7 separate regions of the Homo sapiens genome follow, and all the other regions are linked to region 1. Evidence: fine-mapped expression QTL. A gene starts in region 1. Each other region holds a variant in brackets. All regions are shown on one strand. Distances are from middle to middle.

Region 1 (4,067 bases):
GGTTAGGAATTTGGGGGTGGCTTAGCTGAGGCAGGAAGGTCCACTTCCACCATGGCTCACTCAGATGACTTGACAAGAAGCCTCAGTTCCTCTCTGGCTCTTGGTAGAAGCTCAGTTCCTCAACAAAGGGACTTTCTTTTTTCTTTTTTTTCAATTTTATTTACTTCTTTTTTGGAGACAGGGTCTCACTTTGTCATTTAGGCTGGAGTACAGTGGCGTGATCATAGTTCACTGCAGCCTCAAATTCCTGGGCTCAAGTAATCCTCCTACCTCAGCCTACCAAGTAGCTGGGACTAAAGATACATGCCCCCATGCCCGGCTAATTTATTTTTATTTGTTTGTAGAGATGGGGTCTCACTGTTGCCCAGGCTGGTCTCCAATTCCTGGGCTCAAGCAGTCCTCCTGCCTGACTCTCCAAGTGCTGAGATTTGTGTCCAGCCACAAAGGGACATTTTCATAGGGCTTCCTCAGGACATGACAATGGGCTTCCTATAGTGAGCAATTCAAGAGAGCAAGGAGAAACCCACAGTGTCTTTTGTGACCTAGTCTTGGAAGTCAACCACCAGCAATTCTGATTCTATTCATTAAACCAAGTGACCTCAGATGATCAGCCAGCCAACGTGCTGGGATGACAGGCGTGAACCACCATGTCTGGCAAGAAATTTTGTAATTCCTTTAAGTGTTATCCTTAAAAACAAGTGATTGATTATAAAAGTTGTATTTCTTCATCCTAAAATTGGTAAAAAATAAAAAAAAAATGTGTTTAGTTTCTACTATGCATTTAGTTTTTTTTTTTTTTTTTTTTTTTTTTTTTTTTTTTTTTTTTTTTTTTGAGACAAAGTTTTGCTCTTGTCACTCAGGCTAGAGTGCATTGGCACAATCTCGGCTCACTGCAACCTCTGCCTCCCAGGTTCAAGAGGTTCTCCTGTTCAGCCTCCCAAGTAGCTGGGATTACACCACCACGCCCGGCTAATTTTTGTATTTTTAGTAGAGACAGGGTTTCACCATGTTGGCCAGGCTGGTCTCAAACTTCTGACCTCAGGTGATCCACCCGCCTCAGCCCCCCAAACTGCTGGGATTACAAGCCTAAGCCACCATGCCCGGCCCTTTCATTTAGTTTCTACTATTCATGTACACATGTACCCTGTTTTACCCACAGACAACTGTGCTAACCGTTAAGAATGTCCCAGCCTTACTAAGATTTTCCTAAGTTTGTCTCCCAGACATTGGGAACTCAAAGGTGAAGAAACTTAGGTGTGAAGGTGGATTGTGGATTCAGACCTCCTTACTTGGAGGCCAGTGCAGAGACACACCAGCAGAGTAACCTCGGGTACATGGCTTCACCTCTCCAAGCCTCACACTCCTCATCAGTAAAGCGAGGATTAGTGGAACCTACCTGTTGGCTTGTTTTGATGATTAAATGAGATAATGTCCGCGAAAAATATTTAGCAGATAAATGTTCACTAAATTTTGAGCTTTAAAAAAATGTTTTACCAGCCAGGCGCGGTGGCTCACGCCTGTAATCCCAGCACTTTGGGAGGCTGAGGCCGGTGGATCACCTTAGGTCAGGAATTCGAGACTAGTCTGGCCAACATGGTGAAACCCTGTCCCTACCAAAAATACAAAAATTAGCCAGGTATGGTGGTGGACGCCTGTAATCCCAGCTACTTGAGAGGCTGAGGCAGGAGAATCGCTTGAACCCAGGAGGCGGAGTTGGCAGTGAGCGGATATCTCGCCGCCGCACTCCAGCCTGGGCAATAGAGTGAGACTACATCTCAAACAAACAAACAAACAAGCAAACAAAGTTTAACTGAAAAGTCTTTCCTGACACCTTTTCGCTACTGAAAATCTTACAGCCCCTCCCGGCCGCAGCCTACACTCCTTCGGCCCAAGCAGGTGCGCTGGAACCGGCAGTTGGTGAGAAGCCGGCTGCCGGCAGCCCCAACCCTTAGCGGCCCCGCGGTCAGGGACCTCCAGGCCCGATGGAGAGTCGGGGCGGGCTAGTGGATGCGCGGCGGGGACGGGAGGTGTCGCCGCTCCGGCTTGCCGGTGACAGGGGCGGGCGGGTCGTGCGCGGGCCCCACCTCCAGCGATCGCAGCCCAGCCCCAGCTCCTCCTCCTCCACGGCTTACCCGGGCTCCGACAGCGGCTGCAGGTCTCCAAGTTGCGGCCGCTGGAGCCCGAGCCATGCGGACCGCGGACCGGGAGGCGCGCCCGGGGCTTCCGTCCCTGCTGCTGCTGCTGCTGGCCGGGGCCGGGCTGTCAGCCGCCTCGCCCCCAGCAGCGCCGCGCTTCAACGTGAGCCTGGACTCGGTCCCCGAGCTGCGCTGGCTGCCCGTGCTGCGGCACTACGACTTGGACTTGGTGCGCGCCGCGATGGCGCAAGTCATCGGGTGAGCTGGGGCCCTGGACGGGGTCTGCGGGGACACCGGCCCTGCGGGTCGGAGTCAAACGCGCGCTGCTCAGAGTGCTTTAAACGGGGACGCTTTACTCCCCGCCACCCTTGGAGAACTGGTTTTGGCTGCCGCCCTGAGCAGCGTCCGGGTTGGGGAGAATCCAGCGCGGCAGGTTCGGCTTTCAAGTTCGGTGTCACCCGTGGCACGCCAGTCCTTGAGCCATTCCGGGTCAGCGTGGCGCGCGAGTTGTCGCCCGGGCTGCATAGCTACCAAGGAGGGGCAACCCGCGCCTTCCTTGCGGGCCTCGCGGGCCTTCCAAGCTTGCCCCTTTGGGACCAGCCTCACTCGCCCTCCCCATTCGGAGTTTTCTTACCCGCCGCCTTCCCCCCGCCCCCTTCCCCCCACTCCCGGGAGGCTGCAGATTGAGTGACGCCGCGCCTGGGCGGTCCACTGACTGGGGAGCAGTGGCCCTGAGACCTCACGCCCTAAGGATGTAGCCCCGCTCGCAGTGCACACGCAGTCGCACGCCGCCGACCTCTGAGCGGGTCAGACGCCCTTGTGCTTTTTGTTTCTAGGGACAGAGTCCCCAAGTGGGTGCACGTGTTAATCGGAAAAGTGGTCCTGGAGCTGGAGCGCTTCCTGCCCCAGCCCTTCACCGGCGAGATCCGCGGCATGTGTGACTTCATGAACCTCAGCCTGGCGGACTGCCTTCTGGTCAACCTGGCCTACGAGTCCTCCGTGTGAGTGCCCCAAGCCCGCGCGGAGTAACGCGGGGCTTGCGGGGGCCCCCGACACAGACTAGCGGGAGGAGACATATTTTCCGTGTGATAAAAACAGGGCGGTGCCTGCTTGCCTAGAAACCTCCAGCGCTTCCTCTTTGCCTCTCTGGGTAAATCTGAGCTGCACATCGTAGGCTTCGAGAGGGAAAGCAGATTCTCCGATTCAACACTAAACTTTCCCTCTACGTGTAGCCCCGGGTTTTCTCTTCCCCAATCCAGGTAGCGTACTTTTAAAATTCTGCTCAAAGGCCGGGCGCGTTGGCTCACACCTGTAATCCCAGCACTTTGGGAGGCCAAGGTGGGCAGATCACGAGGTTAGGAGTTCGAGATCAGCCTGGCCAACATAGTGAAACCCCGTCTCTACGAAAAACACAAAAAATTAGCCAGGCGTGGTGGTGGGCGCCTGTAATCCCAGCTACTTAGGAGGTTGAGGCAGGAGAATCACTTGAACCCGGGAGGCGGAGGTTGCAGCGAGCCGCGATCGCGCCACTGCACACCAGCCCTGGCGACAGTGCGAGACTCTGTCTCAAAAAAAAAAAAAAAAAAATTCTGCTCAAAACGTACTTTTCCAGGAAGTTTTTGAAACTAAGCCTCCTCTCATCTGGACCCTTTAGTTAACTCAGTGGCCTTCCAGCTCTATACTGGCAGTGGCTCATCTCTGCCCTTATTTGTCGCCCTGCATTTATCCTTTCATGTGTGTCGTGGCTGAAGTGTCTGTGTCCACCAGGGCTGGGGCGACAGGGAACACTGCTCTAATAGGGCCAGCCAGTGTTTGGACCGGGAAGTGGGCATGATAAAATGTGCATCCAGGCTGGGCGCGGTGGCTCACGCCTGTAATCCCAGCACTTTGGGAGGCCGAGGCGGGTGAATCACCTGAGGTCAGGAGTTCAAG
Region 2 (4,067 bases), 36 kb after region 1:
GGTTGTCAAAGGCTAAGGGGCTGGGGAAATAGGAAGTTGCCATTCAACTGGTGTAAAGTTTCATTTATACAAGGTGAATAACTTCTAGAGATCTGTACGTCGTGCCTATTGTACACTTAAAAATCTGTTAAGAGGCCAGGCGTGGTGGTTTATCTTATAATCACAGCACTTTAGGAGGCGGAGGTGGGGGTGAAACAGGAGAGTTCCCTGGCTCCCCTTGCAGGACACTCAACAGGGGTGTTGATCTCTGTTCAGCTGCCACAAGCTCAAACCCCTTATAGGAGCGGGAGGATACAGACAGGCAGGTGCAGGAACCAGAGTGAGCGCTTTTGGGCTCTGGCCCCAGGGCAGCTTCTAGGGGTGGTGCTTTGACTCCTGAAGCCCCAGTAGGCATGCTACAGTGCTCTTTTAACTCTGCCATCCACAGATGGCTTAAGTGTTAACCAGCTCAGTGTCCCCTTGGTACCCGGGCCCTTGTCCAGCACCCAGAAAGAATCAGGTTACACACAGACTTGAAGAGTGGTGAATATGGGGGTTTTATTGAGTGGTGGAGGTGGCTCTCAGCAGGATGGATGGGGAGCTGGAACGGGGACGGAGTGGAAAGATGATCTTCCCTTGGAGTTCAGCAGTCCTGTGGCAGAACTCCTCTCCAACTGTCCCCAGCTGGACTCCTCTAGATATTCAGATGCTCCTTCTCTGCCATGCCGTTCTTCAGTTCTTTGGCTCTTCTGCTCATCTCCTCATGGACCCAGGGATTCGGGGTTTATATGGGTACAGGATGTGGGGTGTGGCGGGCCAAGATGCAACATTTGGGCACGAAAACAGGAATGCCTGTTCCCATTTGGGGCCTCGGGTTTCCAGGCTTGAGGGTGGGGCTTTTGGCAGGTAAATAAATCAAACAAAATAAATAACTTTCCAGTATTTCCCCGTCTCCTGTTCATATCAGGAAGATTGCCTGGGTCTATGAGTTTGAGACCAGCTTGGGCAACATAGTGAGACCTCTGTCTCTACAAAAATAAAAATATTAGCTGGGAGTGGTGATGTGTGCCTGTAGTCCCAAGTACTTAAGAGGCAGAGGTGGGAGGATCACTTGAGCCTGGGAGGTCGAGGCTGCAATGAACTGTGGTCATGCCATTGCATTCTACCCTGGGTGACAGAGTGGGATCCTGTCTCAAAAAAAGAAGAAAATCTGTTAAAAGGGTAGATTTCATGTTGTGTTCTTACCAAAATAAAATAAATTTTAAAAACAAGAGGCAATAAAATTTTTTAATTAAAAAGTTAAAATTTATTTTTTTATTTTGAGACAGCATCTCACTCAGTTGCCCAGGCCAGAGTGCAGTGGTGTGATCTCTGCTCACTGCAATAGCTGGGACTACAGACACACACCACCATCCCCTGCTAATTTTTTGTATTTTTTGTAGAGACAGGCTTTTGCCGTGTTGGCCTGGCTGGTCTTGAATTCCTGACCTCAAGTGATCCACCCACCTCGGCCTTTCACGTGCTGAGATTACAAGCATGAGCCACCACGCCTGGCCTAAAATAAATAAATAAATAAATAAAATTGAAAATTTTATTTAAAAAATTTTGGCTGGGCGCAGCAGCTCACACCTGTAATCCCAGCACTTTGGGAGGCCGAGACAGGTGGATTGCATGAGCTCAAGACCAGCCTAGACAACATAGCAAAACCCCATCTCTACAAAAAATACAAAAATTAGGTGGGTATGGTGGCACATGCCTGTGGTCCCAGCTACTTGGGAGGCTGAGGCAAGAGGATTGCCTGAGTCCGGGAAGGTCAAGGCAGCAGTGAGCTGTGATTGTGCCACTGCAAATACCAGCCTGGGCAAGTAAGACCCGTTCTCAAAAAATATATATATATTTTTAAATAAAAATGGCTTGGCCTACAGAGCTTTCATGGCAGATGGAGAGAGCTGGTTTTCAAAATATTCTGTTTTTAAAAAGTACACAAGTGACTGGGCATCACCATGCTCACGCCTGTAATACCAGCACTTTGGGAGGCTGAGGCTGGCGGGTCACCTGAGGTCAGGAGTTCAAGACCAGCCTGACCAACATGGAGAAACCCTGTGTCCACTAAAAATAAAAAATTAGCCAGGTATGGTGGCACATGCCTGTAATCCCAGCTACTCAGGAAGCTGAGGCAGGAGAATCGCTTGAACCCAGGAAGCAGAGGTTGCAGTAAGCCGAGATTGCGCCATTGCACTCCAGCCTGGGCAACAAGAGCGAAACTCTGTCTCAAAAAAA[A/T]AAAAATAATAATAATAAGAACACAAGTAACAGATTTCTAATATAAAAATAAATCAAACAGTACATAATGTGATCCTCTGCCTCTCTTCCCCACTTGTGGATGGCACTCTCCCCATGAGTACCCCTAGTGATAACTGCCATCTGTACTCATTAAGACATTTAAAAATGCATAAACGTTTTAAAATGTAGATTCTATTTTTATTCAGGTATGATAAGGCCAACAGATCAGGGGACAATTGCCATTTAAAAGATAGCTTATTACTCCTCGTTCCCAAGAGGAGAGGTCACACCTGCACAGCCACGGGAGAGAACACTGAGGTTGGTCACAGGCAGAGGACAGGAGAACTGTGGTTTTCGAGGGAAGGAATGGGTGAGGCAGGGTAAGGCGGCTAAGCAGGTGGAGGACTAGCTAGTTGGAATAGTGTCAGCTGACTCCTGACTGTAGACTGCACTGAGTTGTCTGATATATGATGTCAGGGTGATTAGGGTAGAGAGATAACGGCCTTGAGTATGAAAGTCCAAAAAAGGAGGGATTTGGTGGTAGGGCTCTAGATTGGTTAGTTTGCATCTCAGGGATCAGCTAATCCCAGGAGGTGTAGTCTCTCCCTGGTCAACAAGGCCCCAAAATGTCAAAGCATCAATATGGAAACTAGAAAATATGGGTAATACCACATAAAAAAATATCTTAGGTTATTTTCCAACTTTTCCTAATCACAAATTATACAGTAATAAAAATCCTTATATAGATTTTTGCATGGGTGTATAATTCTGTAAGATACTTAGAAGTATAATTTCTAGATTAAAGGATTTACATATTTTAAGTATGTAATTTAATAAATTACAATTAAAATTTAATTTAATTCCCCCAAAATGAAACATTTTAACGATCCCAGCAATAGTATATGGAGAGGGTCCTTTTTCTCATACTCTCAGTAATACAGGATTTTATCAGTCTTTTAGTCAACTTGGAGAAAGAATGTTAGCAGTCAGCCACTAACAAAAACTAAGCTAATGTGAAAATGTTAATATCAGACAAAAGAGAATCAAATGCAAAAAGAATTTTAAAAGGCAGAGTGATATTTAATTTTTATGTCACCCTCTACCAAGACAGTTAAATGACAATACGGCTTCATGTGTAATTACACAGTTGCCGATGGCAATTTTACATGGTTTAAATTTAATATCTAATTATATAGCTTCAAAACGTGTAATGCAAAGACTCAAATACAAGGAGAATTTGCTAAATCTGTACTTGTCATAGAAATCTTCAAAATACCTCTTTCAAAGATGGTCAGATCAGGAAGAATAAACAAAGATAAAGAGGATCTGAATTAATATAATTAACAAATTTAGGCCGGGTGTGGAGGCTCACACCTGTAATCCCAGCACTTTGGGAGGCTGAGGTGGGCAGATCACTTGAGGCCAGGAGTTGGAGACCAGCCTGGCCAACATGGAGAAACCCTGTCTCTACTAAAAATAGAAAGACTAGCTGGCCATGGCAGCGGGGGTGCCTGTAATCCCAGCTACTCGGGATGCTGAGGCATGAGAATTGCCTGAACCCAGGAGGCAGAGGTTACAGTGAGCTGAGATTGTGCCACTGCACTCCAGTCTGGGCGACAGAGCAAGACTGTCTCAAAATAATAATAATAATAATAATAATAATGAACAAACTTGACCTACTAGATATAGACAAACAGAATATCACTTTCTTTGAGAATTTCCATGGTGCATTTAGTACCTACCAGAACACACACACGAGCATCTTAGATTAACTGAAAAAGTAAGTTGTCCAAGAATAGTGATTAACC
Region 3 (4,067 bases), 140 kb before region 1:
AGCAGGGTGGTGTAATGTAATTAACACCACTTTGAAGCCAGGCAGATCAGAGTTCAAATCCCATTTGTTACTAACTAGGTATGGGAAAGTTACTTGACATTTCTAATCCTCAAGTTTTCAATTTTAAAAAAAATTAGGATAAAAGGCCAGGTGCAGTGGCTCATGTCTGTAATCCCAGCACTCTGGGAGGCCGAGGCGGGCAGATCATGAGGTCAGGAGTTCAAGACCAGCCTGGCTAACATGATGAAACCCCATCTCTACTAAAAATACAAAAATTAGCTGAGCGTAGTGGCAGGCGCCTGTAATCCCAGCTACTTAGGAAGCTGAGGCAGGAGAATCGCTTGAAACCAGAAGGCGGAGGTTGCAGGGAGCGGAGACTGCACCACAGCACTCCAGCCTGGGCAAAAGAGCAAAACTCCATCTCAAAAAATAAAAAATAAATTAAAAAAGGAAGACAAAGTGGAGGAAATAGTATTTAACTGTGGGATGGCTGTGAGAATTAAATTATGTAATGAACATATGCAAAGCCCTCTGCCCCATGCCTGGCACATATCAAGTCTTTAACATGCCGTGGTTATTATTATTTTTTCATAAGGTCTTTCTCCAGTGTGATGTGGTTTTTTTGTATTATTTCATGCTAGGAATATATGTATTATACTGTTAGATCCTTAAGGGTACGGTCTGTATCGTTTTTATCTTTGAATCCTACACACCTAGCACAGAACCTGGCAAAATATTCAAGTGAACTACATTAGAACCCTGTACTCTGGCTTATGGATCAAAAAATAAGATGATCAAATCTCCCCAGGAATACCATTTATGAGTTTCTACAAATAAAAGGATAATGCCTCTTCCATTAGTCTATACTTGTATGGTGCATAGTTGCATAAGTCTGCTTAGGGACCTCAGTTGGAGACTTTATAGACATATTTAGCTAGAAGCTGTTAAAGTTACAGATTCAAAAAAAAAGTTACAGGTTCTATGTGAATGATACTTAAAAACTCTCTCTCTCTCTCTCTCTGTGTGTGTGTGTGAGAGAGAGAGAGAGAGTGAAAGAGAGAGAGACAGAGAGAGAGAGACAGAGATACTAACTTGTAAACGCAAAACAAAACTTGCTTCCATATCCTGCTCTAGGTATCTCCTTTCCCATCTCTCTTCTCTCCCTCACGAACAAACATCTTGAAAGAGATGTCTGTCCTTGCCATCTCCACTTCATTTCCCACGTATAGCTCAACCCTCCCCATTATGGCTTCCCACCCATTTCTCCACCCAAACAGCTCTCACTTAAGGGAGCATTTCTTCTTAGACTCTTTTGCAGACCCAACATATTCCAGTTAGCCATTAAATGTTGGAGTTCCTCAAGGCTACGTATTTTCTAACTCTCAACTCTACGCTCCCCAGGCAGTTATATACATGCTTACAGTTTCAATTATGATCTAAATATATCTGATCTATCCTGTAAGTGCCAGTCCTATATATCAAATTTATCTGCCTACTTAACACCTCCACTTGAATGTTCAAAGAACCTTCATACGTAACATGTCTAAGACGAAACTTACAATCGTACAGCCACAACGACCTGGTTCTTATTTAAAACCATTTTTCATTTGTGAACTTTTCCTACATATTTCCTTCTCAGACACACTGGGTGGACACTCTATCACTAAGTTTAACAAACATCTCCAGAGTTCTTTCTATATGCCAGGCACTAAGTGTTCGGCAACCTTGTGAGGTAGGTACTATTATTAGCCCCCCGCCTTTTTTTTTTTTTTTTTTAACAAAGATGAGGAAACTAAGAGATTGAGACTTACATGGAATTGGAATTTGATCTCAGGCAGTCTAATTCCAGAGTCTTGTCCTTTTTTTTTTTTTTAGACGGAGTCTCGCTCTGCCGCCCAGGCTGGAGTGCAGTGGCACTATTTCGGCTCACTGCAAGCTCCGCCTGCCGGGTTCACGCCATTCTCCCGCTTCAGCCTCCCCAGTAGCTGGGACTACAGACGCCCGCCACCACGCCCGGCTAATTTTTCTGTATTTTTAGTAGAGACGGGGTTTCACCATGTTAGCCAGGATGGTCTCGATCTCC[C/T]GACCTCGTGATCTGCCTTTCTCGGCCTCCCAAAGTGCTGGGATTACAGGCGTGAGCCACCGTGCCCGGCCGTCTTGTCCTCTTAACCAAACTGTTCTGTTGCCTCTAAAGAATCAGAATGTTTCCAATTATGAAGACCATGGACATTTATGTAGCACTTGAAAAAGAGTGTAATTCTGTCTTCATTACAACATTTATAAAAGGTTAACAAAAAATAGTTAACACCATTTTACAAACGAGGGAATTGTGCCAGCTTCAGAAACTATCTTGATTACTAGCCACAGAGAATTCTGCCATGGAAGTCATTAAGACCCCCGTAGTCCTGGGTTTGTAGGTCAGTTTCCTGACATGGGAATTTGAGCTTCAGGAGATCAAATCACTGCCATCTCATAGCCAAGAAATGCACTTTCCTCCACAGCACAGAATGTACCAGAGTGCAGCTTGGGTGCCAATGCCTGATTTATCTTCAAGACTTCAACACCGTATAAGACACCAGACCCTGAAAACACCTCCCACATTCCTTACATTATATCAGAGTTGATCTACTATGTTCCTGTCTTTTCCCTATGCCTCTAACCAGTCTCCAAATGTCTAATTTTAGACATCAAGTCTTTCTGGCCAGACACCATAGCTGATTGTGTATTTTGTATGGTGCGTGCCTTGAGCAGTGACAAAGTTCATAAATGCCACCACTATTCAGGGACAACTGAACAGATACTAAAAAACAGGTACAAAAGGCTAGGTGAACAAGCTGATTATATTTCTCTGATATAACCACCGAGAAAAAAAGCCCATACTAATGAAATTCAATTACCAAAAATTTCTTACAAAAATATGGAAATGACCTAAAGGTCAAGGAGAGAAACTGGCTAAGCAAATCATGAAACAATTACAGAACAAATACACTTAAATTATGTTGCAAGAGTATATTGAAAACCAAATCAAAACCACAATGAAATACCACTTCATATCCTCTACGATGGCTATAAATGATGAAAAACCAAGTAACATGTAACACAAGGATGCAGAGATATTAGAATCCTAATATACTGCTGGTGGGATTGTAATACCATGCAGCTAGTGTGAAAAAGTTTGGCAGTTCCTAAAAAAGTTAACATAAAATTACCGTACAACCCAGCAATTCCACTACTAGGTGTACACCCAAGAGAAGTGAAACATGTTCACAACAATAGGTAATTTTGCTATGAATCATAAATCATAACCCCCAAATTCATTCTTACATATATATTTCCTATATATAAGTAAACTTTACTCTGTAATGCTACCAAATAACCAAATAGTGTTTGTAGTATCTCAATATGTCAAGACTATATGATTAGAAAATTTTTTAAAAAGAAAAATAAAACACATGTTCACATAAAAACTTGTACATAAATGTTCACAACACCACTATTCGTAATAGCCATAAAGTGGAAACAGCCCAAATGTCCATCAGCTGATAAATGGATAAACAAGATGCGGTACGGCCATAAAATAGAATATTACTCGGCTATAAGAAAGAATGAAGTACTGATAGGACTCCTGAGAACATTATGCTAAGTGAAAGAAGCCAGACACAAAAGGTCACATATTGTATGATTCCATTTAGGCGAAATATCCAGAATAGGCAAAACCATAGACACAGAAAGTAGACAGTGGTTGCCAGGGAATGGGGGATGGAGAAAATTGGGGCTGACTGCTAATAAGTACAGGGTTTCTTTTTGGGTTGACGGAAATGTTTTGCAATCAGATAGTGGTGATGGTTGCAGAACATAATGAATATACTGAAACCACTGAAGTATACAGCTAAAAATGGTGAATTTTTATGGTATGTAAATTATATTTCAATAAAAAACATACTGCGACACAGGAAACAGGATACACAATGATTCTATAGAAAATGGATTAGAATATTAAATTCAAAAAAGGATAACAGTTTAAGAATTTAAGATATTTTTAAAAAGGCATCTAAAATGGTGCACAA
Region 4 (4,067 bases), 30 kb after region 1:
TCGGTTCCCAGGCTTAACTTTTCCTTTGGCATAGTGAGTAGAATGTCTAGAAGGAAGTGTTATCCAGGTACAGAACATCGCTCCCCTGACATACTGCAGACGTCTCTAGTGGCCCAGAATATTCGTGTTTCTTCTTGGACAGTGTCGTATAAATACCGTTTAATTTTCATCATCCAATGCCCTTTTAAAAATCAAATATGAGAAGTAGTTTACTCATGCCAGCTGTATCACACATCACACAGCCATTGAAACTAGAAATTTCTACTCATTAGTCTTTTTTTTTTTGAGACAGGGTCTTGTTCCACCACCCAAACTGGAGTGCAGTGGTGCAATCTCGGCCCACTGCAAACTCTGCCTCCAGGGTTCAAGCGATTCTTGTGTCTCAGCCTCCTGAGTAGCTGAGATTACCGGCATGTGCCACTATGCCCAGCTTATTCTGTATTTTTAGTAGAAATGGGCTTTTGCCATGTTGGCCAGGCTAAATTTCTTTTTTTTTTTTTTTTTCCAGACAGAGTCTCCCTCTGTCACCCAGGCTGGAGTGCGATGGCACGATCTCGGCTCACTGCAACCTCCGCCTCCTGGGTTCAAGCGATTCTACTGCCTCAGCCTCCCGAGTAGCTGGGATTACAGGCGTGTGCCACCATGCCCGGCTAATTTTTGGTGTTTTTAGTAGAGACAGGGTTTCACCACGTTGGTCAGGCTGGTCTCGAACTCCTGACCTCATGATCTGCCCTCCTTGGCCTCCCAAAGTGCTGGGATTACAGGCGTGAGCCACCGCGCCCAGCCTGGCCAGGCTAAATTTCTACTTATTAGTCTTATTCCATTTTTGTTTTCTTGAAAATATGCCATGATCTTCGGAAATTTGGGGAATACCCTAATTTTAACCAGGCAAAGCGAAGGCATTGAGGGCTGTTCCTCAGGAAAATGATTTAAGTAATCCAACACTCTAGTTGCTTTTCAGATATTTGTCCTTTTTGTTGAAACCGCCTTTGCAAAGATGATGACAGTGAGAGAAGTCTAGCATGGCTGACTCCATCTTCCTTCTAGCCTCACAGGCTGGCTGTCCTTGCTCGTTCCTGGGCACAGACCAAGCTAATCGTGGGAGGAATTTAGTTTAGAGTTTAACTTTAAAGAAAGGATGATAATAACCCCACCCTCAGACTAACCTCTGCCCTGCTAGGGAGTAAAGCCACCTTTGTAAAACTAATGGAAGGCTATGAGATTAGGATTATGGGAAGAACCCGAATTCTGCTAAATGTAGGCGTAGTTTCTATAATCCCTTACTGCTCAGGAGTCATGTGGCTAGAAGTCAAAGATTTGTGACTTCCCCAATTGTTCCTGTAGAGAACATCACTACTATAGCACCTAAGATTGGTCTTTTGAGATGTTTTTCAGACTTTTGCATTCTGGCAACCACTGGACCCCACCAGGACCTGTGACCATGAGTCAACTAGTCCTGTGGCCCTCACCCAAAGGGCATACTCAGTGCATAAAGACTGTTTTCCATACCCCTGTAATTTCATCCCCAATCAGCAACCCCCTTCCTTAGCCCCCAGCTCACCAAATTATCCATTAAAACCCTAGCCTCTGAGTTCTTGGAGAGACTGATTTGAGTAATAACATCCATGCTCCTGCTAGGACTGTTAATTGAACTCTTTCTCTACTGCAATAGTATGATCTCAGTGAATTGGTTTTGTCTGTGCAGTGAGCAAGAAGAACCCATCAGGTGATTGTCAGGCCTCTGAGCCCAAGCTAAGCCATCATATGCCCTGTGACCTGCACGTATACATCCAGATGGCCTGAAGCAACTGAAGATCCACAAAAGAAGAGAAAATAGCCAGTTCCTGCCTTAACTGATGACATTTCACCATTGTGATTTGTTCCTGCCCCA[C/T]CCTAACTGATCAATTGACTTTGTGACAAGACACCCTCCCCACCCTTGCAATAATGTACTTTGTGATATTCCCCCGCCCTTGTGAATGTACTTTGTACGATACACCCTCCCCACCCTTGAGAAGGTACTTTGTAATATCCTCTCCGCCCTTGAGAATGTACTTTGTAAGATCCACTTCCTGCCTGCAAAAAATTGCTCCGAACTCCACCGTCTATCCCAAACCTATAAGAACTAATGATAATCCTACCACCCTTTGCTGACTCCTTTTTTGGACTCAGCCCACGTGCACCCAGGTGATTAAAAAGCTTTATTGCTCACATGAAGCCTATTTGGTGGTCTCTTCACACAGATGTGTGTGACAGTGATAACAGTGTCACGTGGTTTAACTACAATGTGTCCAGATATTGAATTTTGTTTAAGCCTGCTTGGGATTTGTTGTGCTCCCCAAATTTCAAGTTTGTGTCTTTTGTTCAATTTTGGAAAATAGTCAGCTATCTCAGAATTGCTCACCTACATTCTCTTGTGTCTTTTCTCCTGAACTTTAAGTATGCTGAAGGAGCTCAGAACACACTACCCCAAATATGCCACTTTGGTATAAGGACTATTTTGAGCTAAAGGCACTTACAAAACCAGCAGGGAAAAGAAATTCACTCTGACCCTCCCCATTTTCTTCCTGAAAACAAGAGATAAAATCTCCATTTGGAAGATGTCCTTCCAATATCAGGAGGAAAGTAACACTCTTATCAACAATCTAAATGTCCATCTAGGCATGAATGGATAAAGAAAATGTGGTATGTACACACAGTGGAATATTATTCATCCTTTAAAAAGAAGACAGACAGGCACAGTTGCTCACATCTGTAATCCCAGTTACTCGGGAGGCTGAGGAGTGCTTAAGCCCAGGAGTTTGAGACTAGCCTGGCCAACATAGCAAGACCTTGTCTCTAAAAAAAATGTTGTTTAAGGCTGGGCGTGGTGGCTCACGCCTATAATCCCAGCACTTTGGGAGGCCGAGGCAGGTGGATCACAAGGTCAGAAGTTCGAGACCAACCTGGCCAATATGGTGAAACCCTGTCTCTACTAAAAATACAAAAATTAGCTGGGCACGCACCTGTAGTCCCAGCTACTTGGAAGGCTGAGGCAGGAGAATTGCTTGAACCAGGAAGGTGGAGGTTGCAGTGAGCTGAGATCACGCCACTGCACTCCAGCCTGGGTGACAGAGTGAGACTCTGTCTCAAAAAAAAAAAAAAATTTGTTTAAACTTTGCTGGGAATGGGGGTGTGCACCTGTAGTCCCAGCTACATGGGAGGCTGAGGTGGGAGGATCACCTGAGCCCAGGAGTTTAAGGCTGCAGTGAGCTATGATCATGCCACGGCACTCCAGCCTGAGCAACAGAGTGAGAACTTGACTCTAAAAATTAAAAAAGATGGTCTCGCTGTGGGGGAGGAAAAATCAATTCCTCTACCCATCTTACGTTCTCAGCTGGGGCCTTGTAAATTAGACTGACAAAAGACAGATTAACATAACAACAAAAAAGATTAACAATTGAAAAAACAAATAGAAGTTGATTAACATATGTACAGAATACGCAATATGGAGTACCCAGAGAAGAGTAACTCAAAGGTTTGTTTTGAACTTGTTTTTATATGGCATCTTAGCAAAGGAACTATAAATTTTTAGAGAAGTGACAAGACAAAGGAAAAGGACCTTGAGTCTCTCGGGGCAGCAAATTGTGGGAAGGAAAACATATAGTAACAAAAGATAGATGAAAGTTAATTGGCTGGGTGTGGTGGCTCACACTTGTAATCCCAGGACTTTGTGGGGCTGAAGCGGGCAGATCACCTGAGGTCAGGAGTTTGATACCAGCCTGGCTAACATGGTGAAACCCCATCTCTTCTAAAAATACAAAAACATTAGCTGGGCGTGGTGGCGGGGACCTGTAATCCCAGCTACTTGGGAGGCTAAGGCAGGAGAATCACTTGAACCTGGGAGGTGGAGGTGAAGGTGAGCCGAGGTCACACCATTGCACTCCAGCCTGGGCAACAAGATCGAGACTCTGTCTCAAAAAAAAAAAAAAAGTTAATTATATGAATTGGGTCATTCTTGTCATGACCAACTAAAAAAGTCAAGACCAGGTGCGGTAGCTCAGCGCTTTGGGAGGCTGAGGCAGGAGGAT
Region 5 (4,067 bases), 81 kb after region 1:
CGAGGTAGGTGGATCACGAGGTCAGGAGATCGAGACCATCCTGGCTAACATGGTGAAACCCCGTCTCTACTAAAAATACAAAAAATTAGCCGGGAGTGGTGGCGGGTGCCTGTAGTCCCAGCTACTCGGGAGGCTGAGGCAGGAGAATGGCGTGAACCCAGGAGGCAGAGCTTGTAGTGAGCTGAGATTGTGCCACTGCACTCCAGCCTGGGTGACAGAGCGAGACTCCCTCTCAAAAAAAAAAAAACTGTTGCATAACCTAAGATCACAAAGATTTACACTTATGTTTGCTTCTAAGAGTTTTAGAGTTTTAGCTCTTACATTTAGGTCTTTGATCCATATAGAGTTAGTTTTTTTTATATAGTGTTAGGTAGGTATCTAGCTTTACTCTTTTTGCATGTGAATATCTGCTTGTCCCCCATCATTGTTGAAAAAAACTATTCTTTCCCCATTAAATGATCTTGGGACCCTTGTAAAAAAATCAATTGACTATAGATGTATGGGGTCCAGAGGATTTTAATGGCCAGAATAAATTAGGATATGTTTGAGATGATTAAATGCAGGGTTTCTCAACAGTGGTACTGTTGATAATTCTTTGTTTTAGGGTCCATCTTGTGCATTATAAGATGTTTGGCAGCATGTCTGGCCTTTATTTATTAGATGCCAGTAGCACCTCACCTCCATCTTAGTCATAACAAACAACAATGTCTCCAGACATTGCCAAATGTCCCCTGGAGGGAGGGGAGCACAATTACTCCCAGCTGAAAATCATTGGTGAGCCAGTGGGTTTGTGTGATCCTCTTGGGAGTTTAAATTAGATACTAGGATTTGTGTGTCTCTCTGTTGAGCAGTAGGGAGCAGGTGTCCTTGTAAGAATGTCAGAGAAAATGAACATTAAAAACTAGACTAACTCACTGAAGTGATTTCCTCCCTCTGATAAGGGTTCATCTCACTGGACGAGTTCAGGCAGACCTGGAAGCTGTTCAGCTCTCACATGAATATCGACATTACAGATGACTGCATCTGTGACCTTGCTCGGAGCATTGATTTCAACAAAGATGGCCACATTGATATCAATGAGTTCCTGGAGGCCTTCCGCCTTGTGGAGAAATCCTGCCCAGAGGGCGATGCCTCAGAATGCCCACAAGCTACAAATGCTAAAGACAGTGGCTGCAGCAGTCCAGGTGCACACTAAGAACAGCCTGGTCTTCATCACCCAAAGTGCCTCATAGGCAATGCTCAGCTTCTCACTAGACTATCTCCCTTATTCTCCATGTGAAACTTTATGCTGAAAATTTACCTATCCATATGCATCAGAATCACCTGTGTATTTCAGTGTGGAGGGGTGGGTTGGGGTGTTGTGTATGTATGTGTTTTAAGTATATGAGTGCCCCAACCCCACCTCACAATCTTCACAAAGTAGAACTTAGGTATAGTGTTTTCAAATTCTAAAGTCCACTTCAGTTAAGAACCACTGACAATGTAACTCTCTCATTGTTTTCATTTTATACGTTTTTTTGAGATGGAGTTTCTCTCTTGTTGCCCAGGCTGGAGTGCATTGGCGCGATCTCGGCTCACCGCAAAGTCCGCCTCCCAGGCGATTCTCCTGCCTCAGCCTCCTGAGTAGCTGGGATTACAGGCATGCACCACCACACCAGG[C/A]TAATTTTGTATTTTTAGTAGACACAGGGTTTCTCCATGTTGGTCAGGCTGGTCTTGAACTCCCAACCTCAGGTGATCCACCCTCCTCAGCCTCCCAAAGTGCTGGGATTACAGGCATGAGCCACCGCACCCAGCCTATTTTATACTTTTTATTTATTGTCTTTAACAATGTCTATTGGTAAAGGAAAGTTATTTTTAAAAATTGTATTGTAATTCCATGACCCAAGCATATGGATTTTCTTCATTATTTACTTTTTCTTACTTGTTACTGTAGTGTTTATATAATTTTATGTTCTACTTTTAAAAAAATAAATTAATATCTAATTGTAAACCCTTTCCCATGTGCTTCCCTTGTGATTCTGTATTCTTCATGATAATTAGTTTAATGCTTGCATAATTTTCTTTGAAGTGAATGTGCTATAATCTATGCAGCCCTTCTCCAATTGTTAAACATGTGTATTATTTCCACTTTTTCATTATTAGAAATAACACTAGGGAGAGTGTTAGGACAAATACCTAATGCATGCGGGGCTTAAAACCTAGATAACAGCCGGGCGCGGTGGCTCACGCCTGTAATTCCAGCACTTTAGGAGGCTGAGGCGGGCGGATCACGAGGTCAGGAGATCGAGACCATCCTGGCTAACACGGCGAAACCCCGTCTCTACTAAAAAAATACAAAAAATTAGCTGGGCGGGTGCCTGTAGTTCCAGCTACTCGGGAGGCTGAGGCAGGAGAATGGCGTGAACCCGGGAGGCGGAGCTTGAGATCGCGCCACTGCACTCCAGCCTGGGTGACAGAGCGAGATTCCATCTCAAAAAAAAAAAAAAACAAAAACCTAGATGACAGGTTGATAGGTGCAGCGAACCACCATGGCACATGTATACCTATGTGTATACATATGTGTAACAAACCTGCATGTTCAGCACATGTAGCCAAGAACTTAAAGTAAAATAAAAAAAAAAAAACACTGTAGTTAATAACATAGTGCATACAGCTTATTTTACACAAATCTTTTGAATTTTACATTTTAGTGGTATAAATTCCCAGGAATGGGATTACTTTGACAAAGGATGTTGTATTAGTCTAGGTGCTTCAGAGAAACAGAACCAATATGAAATTTACATAAGTATTTACTATTAAGAATTGGCTTACATGATTATGGAGGCTGAAAAGTCCTAAGATCTGCAGCTGGCAAGCTAGAGAACCAGGAGAGCCAATGGTGTCAGTTACAGTCTAAGTCCAAAGGCCTGAGACTCAGAAGATCCAACGGAGTCAGTTCCAGTTCATGTTTGAGTAGGCAGGAAAAAACCAATGTCCCTGCTCAAAGGCAGTGAGACAGAGAAAAATAACTCTTTCTTATTCAGCCTTTTATTATATTCAGGCTTTCAACAGATTGGATGAGGTCCACTCACCTTGGCAAGGACAATCTCCTTTACTCAGCCTACAGATTCAAATGTCATATCTCATCCAGAAACATCTTTACAGACACACCCACATATAATATTTAACCAAATATCTAAATATCCTGTGGCTCAATCAAGTTGACACGTAAAGTTAACCATCACAGGTATGAACATTTTAATGGCATGATACGTATTGCCAGGTTGCTCTTCAGAACTGGGCATACCAATTCTACCATAAACTCATAAGCTTTTAGTGGGATCATTTCTAACTTATGCAAAAGGTGAATGATAGTGCTTCCATGATATTTTACTATGCATTTATGTAATTAACATCCAATGTTGGGAACAAGCCCCCCAAAATCTGGACATAAACTGGCCCCAAAACTGGCCATAAACAAAATCTCTGCAGCACTGTGACGTGTTCATCATGGCCATAACGCCCATGCTGGAAGGTGGTGGGCTTTCCAGAATGAGGGCAAGGAACATCTGGCCCGCCCAGGGCAGAAAACTGCTTAAAGGCATTCTTAAGCCACAAACAATTGCATGAGCGATCTGTGCCTTAAGGACACACTCCTGCTACAGTTAACTAGCCCAAACTATTCCTTTAATTTGGCCCATCCCTTCATTTCCCATAAGGGATACTTTTAGTTAATTTAATATCTATAGAAACAATGCTAATGACTGGCTTGCTGTTAATAAATACGTGGGTAAATCTCTGTTCAGGGCTCTCAGCTCTGAAGGCTGTGAGACCCCTGATTTCCCACTTCACACCTCTATATTTCTGTGTGTGTGTCTTTAATTCCTCTAGCGCTGCTGGGTTAGGGTCTCCCCAGCCAAGCTGGTCTTGGCAATCCAAAGCTGTCTCCACAACCTTATTTTATTTATAAACTAAGGAAATTGAGGTTTAGAGAACTTGCTGTGTATATGTGATCTAAGTTACTAACACAGCCAGGACTGGAGCCCATGATTTCTGCCTCCACCTAGGATTCTTTCCAGTTATACCCA
Region 6 (4,067 bases), 110 kb before region 1:
CTGTCCTATTTTTTTTATATTCGCACTCTCAACTATATCTATTTAAAACATTAAGTTTAATAACACTTAGTTCAAACTGGCAAATGATGTGTCCTGAAATACTCCTTATAAATGGTCATTTTACTATATTCTATTTTTTAAAAATACAAATAAATCCAATGAAGCTTCATACCTTGCAGACATAGCTCTTCTAACATTCACATGCAGGGGTCATCTCTCCAAGCAAGCTCCTTTGTGCATTTATTCTCTTTCCAACTAGCCCTGAAATAATATCGACCAGATCTATTTTCTCCTCTCCTCCAGCTTCTCTGAGTAGCAGAAGCAATAAACTAATAATGGTAAGTGAAGCTACTATTTCTCCCTTCTTACTGAATCAAGCTTCCTTCAGTTAGTCGCTTGTAAAGTTGCTCATTGCTTAATCTCTCACGTTTCTATCCCCTAACAATAGGCATGTTGTTTCCCAACTTGAAAAATTAACATGAACGTCTACATTGACCTGGCAGTTGTCGAGTGCAGTCATTTTCCAGGCAGCCAACTAAAGGCCATGCACAGAGCTGCTTTGTTGTGAGAAACATGATTTCTCTGAAGTTTATGGTGATGCTGAAGTTGTTTTGTACAACCCACTGTTCCTGGCTCACATACATACAAATGACAGCAAACATTCTGACAGAGGTACAGAGGACATGGAAAAGAGGGTTAGTCTATTCAATGAGCTGGCAGAACTTGATCATTTCTACTTCTGTGTTCTAAATTTTAACATATGCGACTTTGAATTTTACCTACAATTTTAAAGGAAAGTAATTGGTTTTAAACCCATATTCTTTTTTTCTTCTGAATTCCTGTGGAAATAAATTAAGTAGCTTTTCTTTGACGACTGTTAATTATACCCTAATAAAATTAACTTGGCAGTAGACTTGGCAAAAAGTAATATTCCAAGGCAATTAAATTTGGTTATAGATAAAACAAACAATATTTATATACTGTGCTTTGCCAGGTTGAAAAAAGAGACAAATAATAGCTAGTTTTTTTTTAGTAACTCTTCTACCAAAAAGGTAGAGAAACACTGTTTTCTTTTCAGAAGAGGAATGGTAGATCAAACTCTTAATTAATTTATAAGAAAATGAGAGAGCTGTAGTTAATAAATCAGGTATAGCTTAAATGTTCCAGGAAGACTCTTCCTGTGCAATAAATTTAATTAAGCCAATGAGAAACAATCCAATTCCAGTGACAAGATAGAGATAACCTGTACGTGATCAGCATGAACAGGCATAGTTAAAAAACAAAGTAAATTGAACTACCAGTAACTATTTTTCAAATCCTTAATCACTGGAAACTAAAGCTTATTTCTTCTTTTTGTGCTCAACTTTCAGGGAACAAATAACTGCCCTTCCTTTAAAGTCAGAAATTTGGTACACACCAGCTGGGTGCAGGGGCTCATGCTTATAATCCCAGCATTTTGGGAGGCTGAGGCAGGTGGATGGCTTAAGACCAGGAGTTTGAGACCAGCCTTGCCAACATGGTGAAACCCCGTCTCTACTAAAAATACAAAAATTAGCCTGGTGCGGTGGCACAGGCCTGTAATCCTAGCAACTTGGGAGGCTGAGGCACGAGAATTGCTTGAATCTGTTTGCTTGAATCTGGGAGGCAGGGGTTGCAGCAAGCCGAGATCGTGCCCGTGCACTCCAGCCTGGATGACAGAGCAAGACTCTGTCTTAAAAAAAAAAAAAAGAAG[G/AAAAG]AAAAAAGAAATTGGGTACACGCATGTTCTCACTTACAAGTGGGAGCTAAATAATGTGTACACATAGACATAGAGTATGGAATGATAGACAGTGGAGACTTGGAAGGGTTGGGGGCGGTGGATGATGAGAAACTACTTAATGGGTACCATGTACATTATTCTGGTGATGGATACACTAAAAGCCCTAATTTCACCACTATGCAATATATCCATGTAACAAAATTATATTTGTATCCCCCAAATTTATACTGACAAGGAAAGGAAAGGTAGATGGCTACCAGTGGCTCTCTCAAGCATGAGAAGTTCCGTATGGTGATACGGTAGTCACTGAAAACTGGCCCTTATTCTGTGCATGCACTTGCGACTGCAATGTTTGGGGTAGCACATATCAAGGATGAAGTCATCCTTATAAAATGTGAGCATTGATATATCTCATTCTCAAATACCAGACTACATTAGCAGAATACAACCTTTGGAAATCTCTTCTTATGTCAAAGTCCCAGAAAGAGATAAAGCATATTGACCAGGCAGGTCTCAAAATCCTGACTTCAGGTGATCTGCCCACCTCAGCCTCCCAAAGTGCTGGGATTACAGGCGTGAGCATGGCGAAACCCCGTCTCTAATAAAAATACAAAAAAAATTAGCTGGGCATGGTGGCAGGCGACCGTAATCCAGGCTACTCGGCAGGCTGAGGCTGGAGAAAGGCTTGAACTCAGGGGCGGAGGTTGCAGTGAGCTGAGATTGCGCCATTGCACTCCACTCCAGCCTGGGCAGCAAGAGCGAAACTCTGTCTCAAAAAAAAAAAAAAAAAAAAAAGAGAGAGAGAGAGATACAACATAAACTCAGAAACATCCTTATTTAAAATTCATTGTCAGCCAGGTACAGTGGCTTATGCCAGTAATCCCAGCACTTTGGGAGGTTGAGGTGGGAAGACCACTTGGGCACAGGAATTCGAGACCAGCCTGGGCAACATGGCGAAACCCCAACTCTACCAAAAATACAAAAACATTAGCTGGCTGTGGACGTGTGTGCCCATAGTCCCAGCTACTCAGGAGGCTGAGGTGGGAAGATGGTTTGTGCCCGGGAGGCAGATACTGCGGTCAGCCGAGATCACGCCATTGCACTCCAGCCTGGGCGATAGAGCAGGTCTAAAACAAACAAACAAAAAATTCATCATCACTTTGGAACTCTTTTCAATGGCATTAAAACATGCATTATTCCTCAACGTCTTAATGATTTTAATGTTATTTATACAATTTACTCCAAGTTTTGATGAAAAAAATAGAGCCTTACCCAGTGCCTAATGGCTACCTTGAATATAGCCTGCAGAATCTGTCTCATTTCTGGGACGGGTATTTTAATAATATTATAAGAAACTCACAGTAGTATTCTACTAAGAACTCTTAAAAAAAAATCCACCGGCAGCTCCCTAAAGTCATTGGCATGCCTAAATCCCTCTAAAAAACAGCATCAGGTACTATACTACTGTACTTTTGAGAGGTGACAGTGTGCTGGCAGTCCTCACAGCCCTCGCTTGCTCTCGGCACCTCCTCTGCCTGGGCTCCCACTTTGGCGGCACTTGAGGAGCCCTTCAGCCCACTGCTGCACTGTGGGAGCCCCTTTCTGGGCTGGCCAAGGCCGGAGCCGGCTCCCTCAGCTTGCAGGGAGGTGTGGAGGGACAGGCGCCAGCGGGAACCAGGGCTGCGCGTGGGCTTGCAGGCCAGCTGGAGTTCCGGGTAGGCGTGGGCTTGGCGGGCCCCGCACTCGGAGCAGCCCGCCGGCCCTGCCGGCCCCAGGCAATGAGGGGCTTAGCACCCGGGCTAGCAGCTGCGGAGGGTGTACTGGGTCCCCCAGCAGTGCCAGCCCACTGGCACTGCGCTCCATTTCTCATCGGGCCTTAGCTGCCTTCCTGCGGGGCAGGGCTCAGGACCTGCAGCCCGCCATGCCTGAGCCTCCCACCCCCTCCATGGGCTCCTGTGTGGCCCGAGCCTCCGCGACAAGTGCCACCCCCTGCTCCACGGTGCCCAGTCCCATCGACCACCCAAGGGCTGAGGAGTGCGGGCACACAGCACCGGGACTGGCAGGCAGCTCCACCTGCAGCCCTGGTGCGGGATCCACTGCGTGAAGCCAGCTGGGCTCCTGAGTCTGGTGGGAACATGGAGAACTTTTATGTCTAGCTCAGGGATTGCAAATACACCAATCGGCCCTCTGTATCTAGCTCAAGGTTTGTAAATACACCAATCAGCACCCTGTGTCTAGCTCAGGGTTTGTGAATGCACCAATTGACACTCCGTATCTAGCTATTCTGGTGGGGCCCTGGAGAACCTTTGTGTCG
Region 7 (4,067 bases), 22 kb after region 1:
ACTGCTCTATCCCCCACCAGCACAGTGCCTGGCACAGTGTAGATATTCAAGAAAACCCTGTTTAAATAATAAATGAATGAAGAAGCACAAAAAGTCCTTTGTGAGGGCGATCTGCCTGGAGAGCACACAGCCGGTGTTTGCTGAGCCAGGCCTAGGGCTTGTCAACAGTTCTCTCCTCCTGTCAGAATTTCCTGCTGCTCCTGGCTCCGCTTTGAAGCTGAAATTTCTTCCATCTTAGGAGCCCTGATAACAAGAGGATAAGGTCAGAGCAGATCAAGGTGATAGTCATGACATAACATATCAGGAGAATGTGCTTTGGATCATTTTTGCATCATCTGGTGTGGACCCAACTGCAGGTGGGGTTGCTCACGCAAGTTCATCCTTTCGTTCAGACCCTGAGTGAGTCGGAAAACTTCGAAGCAGCTGTTGGCAAGTTGGCCAAGACTCCCCTTATTGCTGATGTTTATTACATTGTTGGTGGCACGTCCCCCCGGGAGGGGGTGGTCATCACGAGGAACAGAGATGGCCCAGCAGACATTTGGCCTCTAGATCCTTTGAATGGAGCGTAAGTAGAATTGAAAGCTCTGGTCATTTTGTATCAGATAATCATTTTTTTTAATCGGTGAAATGAGGGGTATTTTAAATTTGTTCATATGTCTCCTCTGCTATGTCGTAAATTGCCTTGGATAAGACAAGATGATGTGCTCTGTTGTAGGTGGTTCCGAGTTGAGACAAATTACGACCACTGGAAGCCAGCACCCAAGGAAGATGACCGGAGGTAGGCTGCTACGTGCTTTCTGGTTTGCAGTGTTTTCTTATGGTCAGGAGAATATGCCCATTCTGTCACAGGAACTGGCAAGACCTATGGGTGCTATCCTCTCCCAGAAAATGTACCTGAGCCCCTTCGCCAGTGCCTTGGCTGGGAAGGGAGTGTTGTGTGGAGGAGAGCAGTGGGCAGAGCCTCTCAGCAGCTGGGCGGGTGTTGGGAGGCTGTCAGGGTCAGGAGCCCTAGAGCCCACCACCAGCTCTGCTAGTGACTCACTGGGTGGCTCTCGGGCCTCTGTTTACCAGTCTGTAAAATGAAAGCAAAGGGCCAGGTTCATGGTCTTCTAGGCAAGATATTTTTAGAAGGAAATTATTTCCCTTATTTAAACAATAAATAAACCAGTCAAGGGTTTTTATTGTCCCTTCAAGTTGTAAACATTCTATAATTATAAGTCAGCACAGTTCCAAAGTGCAGGTAGCTATATACGTTGCCTTGGCTTTACTACCCCACAAGTTTGGCCACTGTTCAGTTCTGCAGCCACACATTTTCATCATCCCAGCTTTCTGGAGCAGATGGTGCCAACCGTCCCAGCTGCTGGATGAATTCCACTGTGGTGGGCTGGGCCTCAGCAGGAAACAGGCTTGGGGCCAGAATCTGTTTTGGAGAAAGGGAGATAATGAGACTGGAGCTTGCATTCTGCCTCCCAAAAATGACAGCTGATGGGCTTCAGTGCTTGTTGAAATGCCAAGTGACCTTCGACCTTTGTCCTTACAGAACATCTGCCATCAAGGCCCTTAATGCTACAGGACAAGCAAACCTCAGCCTGGAGGCACTTTTCCAGGTAACTTGTGTCACAGTGTCCTGCATACCTAGGATGTTTGGTGTTTTGTTAATAGTGAATATGAAAAACTCCGTGAAATCTTCTGGTAGATGAAAACGTTAGGGTAAAAGTTTTATTTGGTTGAAATCATGTATTAAAAGTGGTGGCTCACACCTGTAATCCCAGCACTTTGGGAGGCCTAGGCAGGCAGATCACGAGGTCAGGAGATTGAGACAATCCTGGCTAACACAGTGAAACCCTGTCTCTACTAAAAATACAAAAAATTAGCCAGGTGTAGTGGC[G/A]GGTGCCTGTAGTCCAAGCTACTCCAGAGGCTGAGGCAGGAGAATGGCGTGTACCCGGAAGGCGGAGCTTGCAGTGAGCCGAGATTGCGCCACTGCACTCCAGCCTGACAGAGCGAGACTCCGTCTCAAAAAAAAAAAAAATTATATGACATTTTCTCAACTTGCTTTTATATAAGTTAAAATGTCCATCTTCACCAAAGTTTTTCTTTATATTAAAAAGAAAAAGTCATAGTTGTAATATATGTTCATTGTTTAAAAGAAAAAAAGAGAAAGAATTAAAAAGTCAGGCCGGATGTGGTGGCTCACACCTATAATCCCAGCACTTTGGGAGGTCAAGGCAGGAGGATCACTTGAGGTCAGGACTTCGAGACCAGCCTGGCCAACATGGTGAAACCCCGTCTCTACTAAAAATATATAAATTAGCCAGGCTTGGTGGTGTGTGCCTATAATCCCAACTACTTGGGATGCCGAGGCAGGAGAATCGGTTGACCCTGGGAGGCGGAGGTTGCAATGAACCAAGATCATGCCACTGCATTCTAGCCCAGGTGACACAGCAAGACTGTCTCAAAAAAAAAGTCTATATCACCTCAAGGTACACTAAAGAGTGGTTATGTTCTTTCTACAGACATTCTTTTTTTTTCTTTTTTAGTAAAGACAGGGTCTCTCTATGTTGCCCAGGCTGGTCTTGAACTCCTGGGCTTGAGTAATCCTCCCACGTCGGCTTCCCAAAGTGCTGGGATTACAGGCCTGAGCCACTGCACCCGGCCCTCCATAGATATTCTATGTGTATTTCTTCTACCATGTAATCTTCTCTATAAAATGACTTTTTCCTATGCAGATTTTGTCGGTGGTTCCAGTTTATAACAAGTAAGTGGCTTGTTAAACATGTCTGTTCACACATCACTCCAGAACAGTGAACTCACTCACGTACTGTTTGGCTCAGCAAGGATCTGAGGGCTCCTGTAACCAGGCTGTGGGGGCACTCCTGTGGGGGCACTCCTGTGGGTACAGCTGCGAGCAAAACAAAGTCTCTGCTCTCATGGGACTAATATGGGTGGGGTGGGGGTGGTGGTGATAAACAAATATAAATCAGGTGAGAAGTCCATGAAGAAATCCAAAGGTAAAAAGAATAGAGTGACCCTGAAGGAGGCTCTGGGAATTTTTTTTTTTCTTGAGCCAGAGTCTCGCTCTGTCACCCAGGCTGGAGTGCAGTGGCGCAATCTCGGCTCACTGCAAGCTCTGCCTCCCAGGTTCACACCATTCTCCTGCCTCAGCCTCCCAAGTGGCTGGGACTACAGGCTCGTGCCACCACGCCCAGCTAATTTTTTGTATTTTTTAAGTAGGGACAGGGTTTCACCGTTTTAGCCAGGATGGCCTTGATCTCCTGACCTCATGATCTGCCCACCTCGGCCTCCCAAATTGCTGGGATTACAGGAGTGAGCCACTGCGCCCGGCCAGCTCTGGGAATCTTAAATTCAAACTTGGCCTTCCATAGTGTTGTCAAACTAGAAGGAAAAACACTTTGACTGGCTGACCTCTTGATTCCTACATTTGAAATATTCTGGCAGTGAGGTGTTCATCCTAACTCAGTCAGGTAGCTGTGGACAGCCTTCACCTGTTAGGAGCTCCTTAGAAATAAATTCTGAATACCTTTGGTTTTCTTTTATCCTCCGGAGGAATTTCCACTATCTCCGAAGCTGTTCCTTGTTCCACTGACAATTCGCTTAGTTAATGTTCTTTTTTAGCCTGTACCCTTGATAGCAGCATTCTGTGAGCAATGGTTTCTCTAGTGTATAGCCTAGGATTTTACTCACATTCTTTTTAATTTCTTTTTCTTTTTTTTTTTTTTTTAAGTGAAAGCAGGCCAGGTGCGGTGGCTCACGCCTGTAATCCCAGCCCTTTGGGAGGCCAAGGCGGGTGGATCACTTGAGGTCAGGAGTTCAAGACCAGCCTGGCCAACATGGTGAAACCTCGTCTCTACTAAAAATACAAAAATCAACCAGGCATGACGGTGCACGCCTGTTATCACAGCTACTTGGGAAGCAGCGGCTGGAGAATTGCTTGAACCTGGGAAGTCGAGGCTGCAAGTGAGCTGAGATCATGCCATGGCAGTCTAGCCTGGGCAACAGAGCGAGACTCTGTTTCAAAAAAAAAAAGAAAAGAAAACTAATTAGTCAGT

Which allele goes with the higher level. Positions count from the first base shown, and alleles are read on the strand shown. Sizes are in standard deviations (SD) of each study's normalised expression. Not every link is listed here.
For the expression in monocytes after triphosphate RNA of the gene that starts at base 2,124 in region 1, A is the high allele of the variant in region 5 and C is the other (large effect, 1.2 SD a copy in Kim-Hellmuth 2017).
With allele G in place of AAAAG in region 6, the expression in NK cells of the gene that starts at base 2,124 in region 1 is higher (large effect, 1.0 SD a copy in Schmiedel 2018).

What was found.
Region 2: its variant is fine-mapped to the expression of NAAA in whole blood (TOPMed, PIP above 0.99).
Region 3: its variant is fine-mapped to the expression of NAAA in aorta (GTEx, PIP 0.98).
Region 4: its variant is fine-mapped to the expression of NAAA in whole blood (TOPMed, PIP above 0.99).
Region 5: its variant is fine-mapped to the expression of NAAA in monocytes after triphosphate RNA (Kim-Hellmuth 2017, PIP 0.95).
Region 6: its variant is fine-mapped to the expression of NAAA in NK cells (Schmiedel 2018, PIP 0.95).
Region 7: its variant is fine-mapped to the expression of NAAA in whole blood (TOPMed, PIP 0.95).

Annotation. Positions count from the first base shown.
Region 1 is chr4:75,939,070-75,943,136 of GRCh38, reverse strand. It overlaps NAAA (N-acylethanolamine acid amidase), which reads left to right and starts at 2,124. Exons shown (of 11, transcript NM_014435.4): 1 at 2,124-2,393; 2 at 2,972-3,136. The coding sequence starts at 2,188. RefSeq lists silencers at 1,902-2,371, 2,772-2,841.
Region 2 is chr4:75,902,874-75,906,940 of GRCh38, reverse strand. No RefSeq gene overlaps it. Among named protein-coding and RNA genes, the nearest start is that of PPEF2, 2.5 kb to the right of the region's middle. The variant A/T (reference allele first, on the strand shown) is at 2,260.
Region 3 is chr4:76,076,886-76,080,952 of GRCh38, reverse strand. The region is part of intron 2 of ART3 (ADP-ribosyltransferase 3 (inactive)); the gene reads right to left. Among named protein-coding and RNA genes, the nearest start is that of ART3, 4.2 kb to the right of the region's middle. The variant C/T (reference allele first, on the strand shown) is at 2,084.
Region 4 is chr4:75,908,992-75,913,058 of GRCh38, reverse strand. It overlaps a transcript of NAAA not described here. Among named protein-coding and RNA genes, the nearest start is that of PPEF2, 8.6 kb to the right of the region's middle. RefSeq lists enhancers at 2,543-3,464, 3,465-4,067. The variant C/T (reference allele first, on the strand shown) is at 1,892.
Region 5 is chr4:75,857,795-75,861,861 of GRCh38, reverse strand. It overlaps PPEF2 (protein phosphatase with EF-hand domain 2), which reads left to right. Exons shown (of 17, transcript NM_006239.3): 17 at 942-1,995. The coding sequence ends at 1,195. Among named protein-coding and RNA genes, the nearest start is that of PPEF2, 43 kb to the left of the region's middle. The variant C/A (reference allele first, on the strand shown) is at 1,660.
Region 6 is chr4:76,050,380-76,054,446 of GRCh38, reverse strand. It overlaps a transcript of ART3 not described here. Among named protein-coding and RNA genes, the nearest start is that of CXCL11, 16 kb to the right of the region's middle. The variant G/AAAAG (reference allele first, on the strand shown) is at 1,733.
Region 7 is chr4:75,917,449-75,921,515 of GRCh38, reverse strand. It overlaps NAAA (N-acylethanolamine acid amidase), which reads left to right. Exons shown (of 11, transcript NM_014435.4): 6 at 393-565; 7 at 716-778; 8 at 1,541-1,607; 9 at 2,727-2,755. Among named protein-coding and RNA genes, the nearest start is that of PPEF2, 17 kb to the right of the region's middle. The variant G/A (reference allele first, on the strand shown) is at 1,889.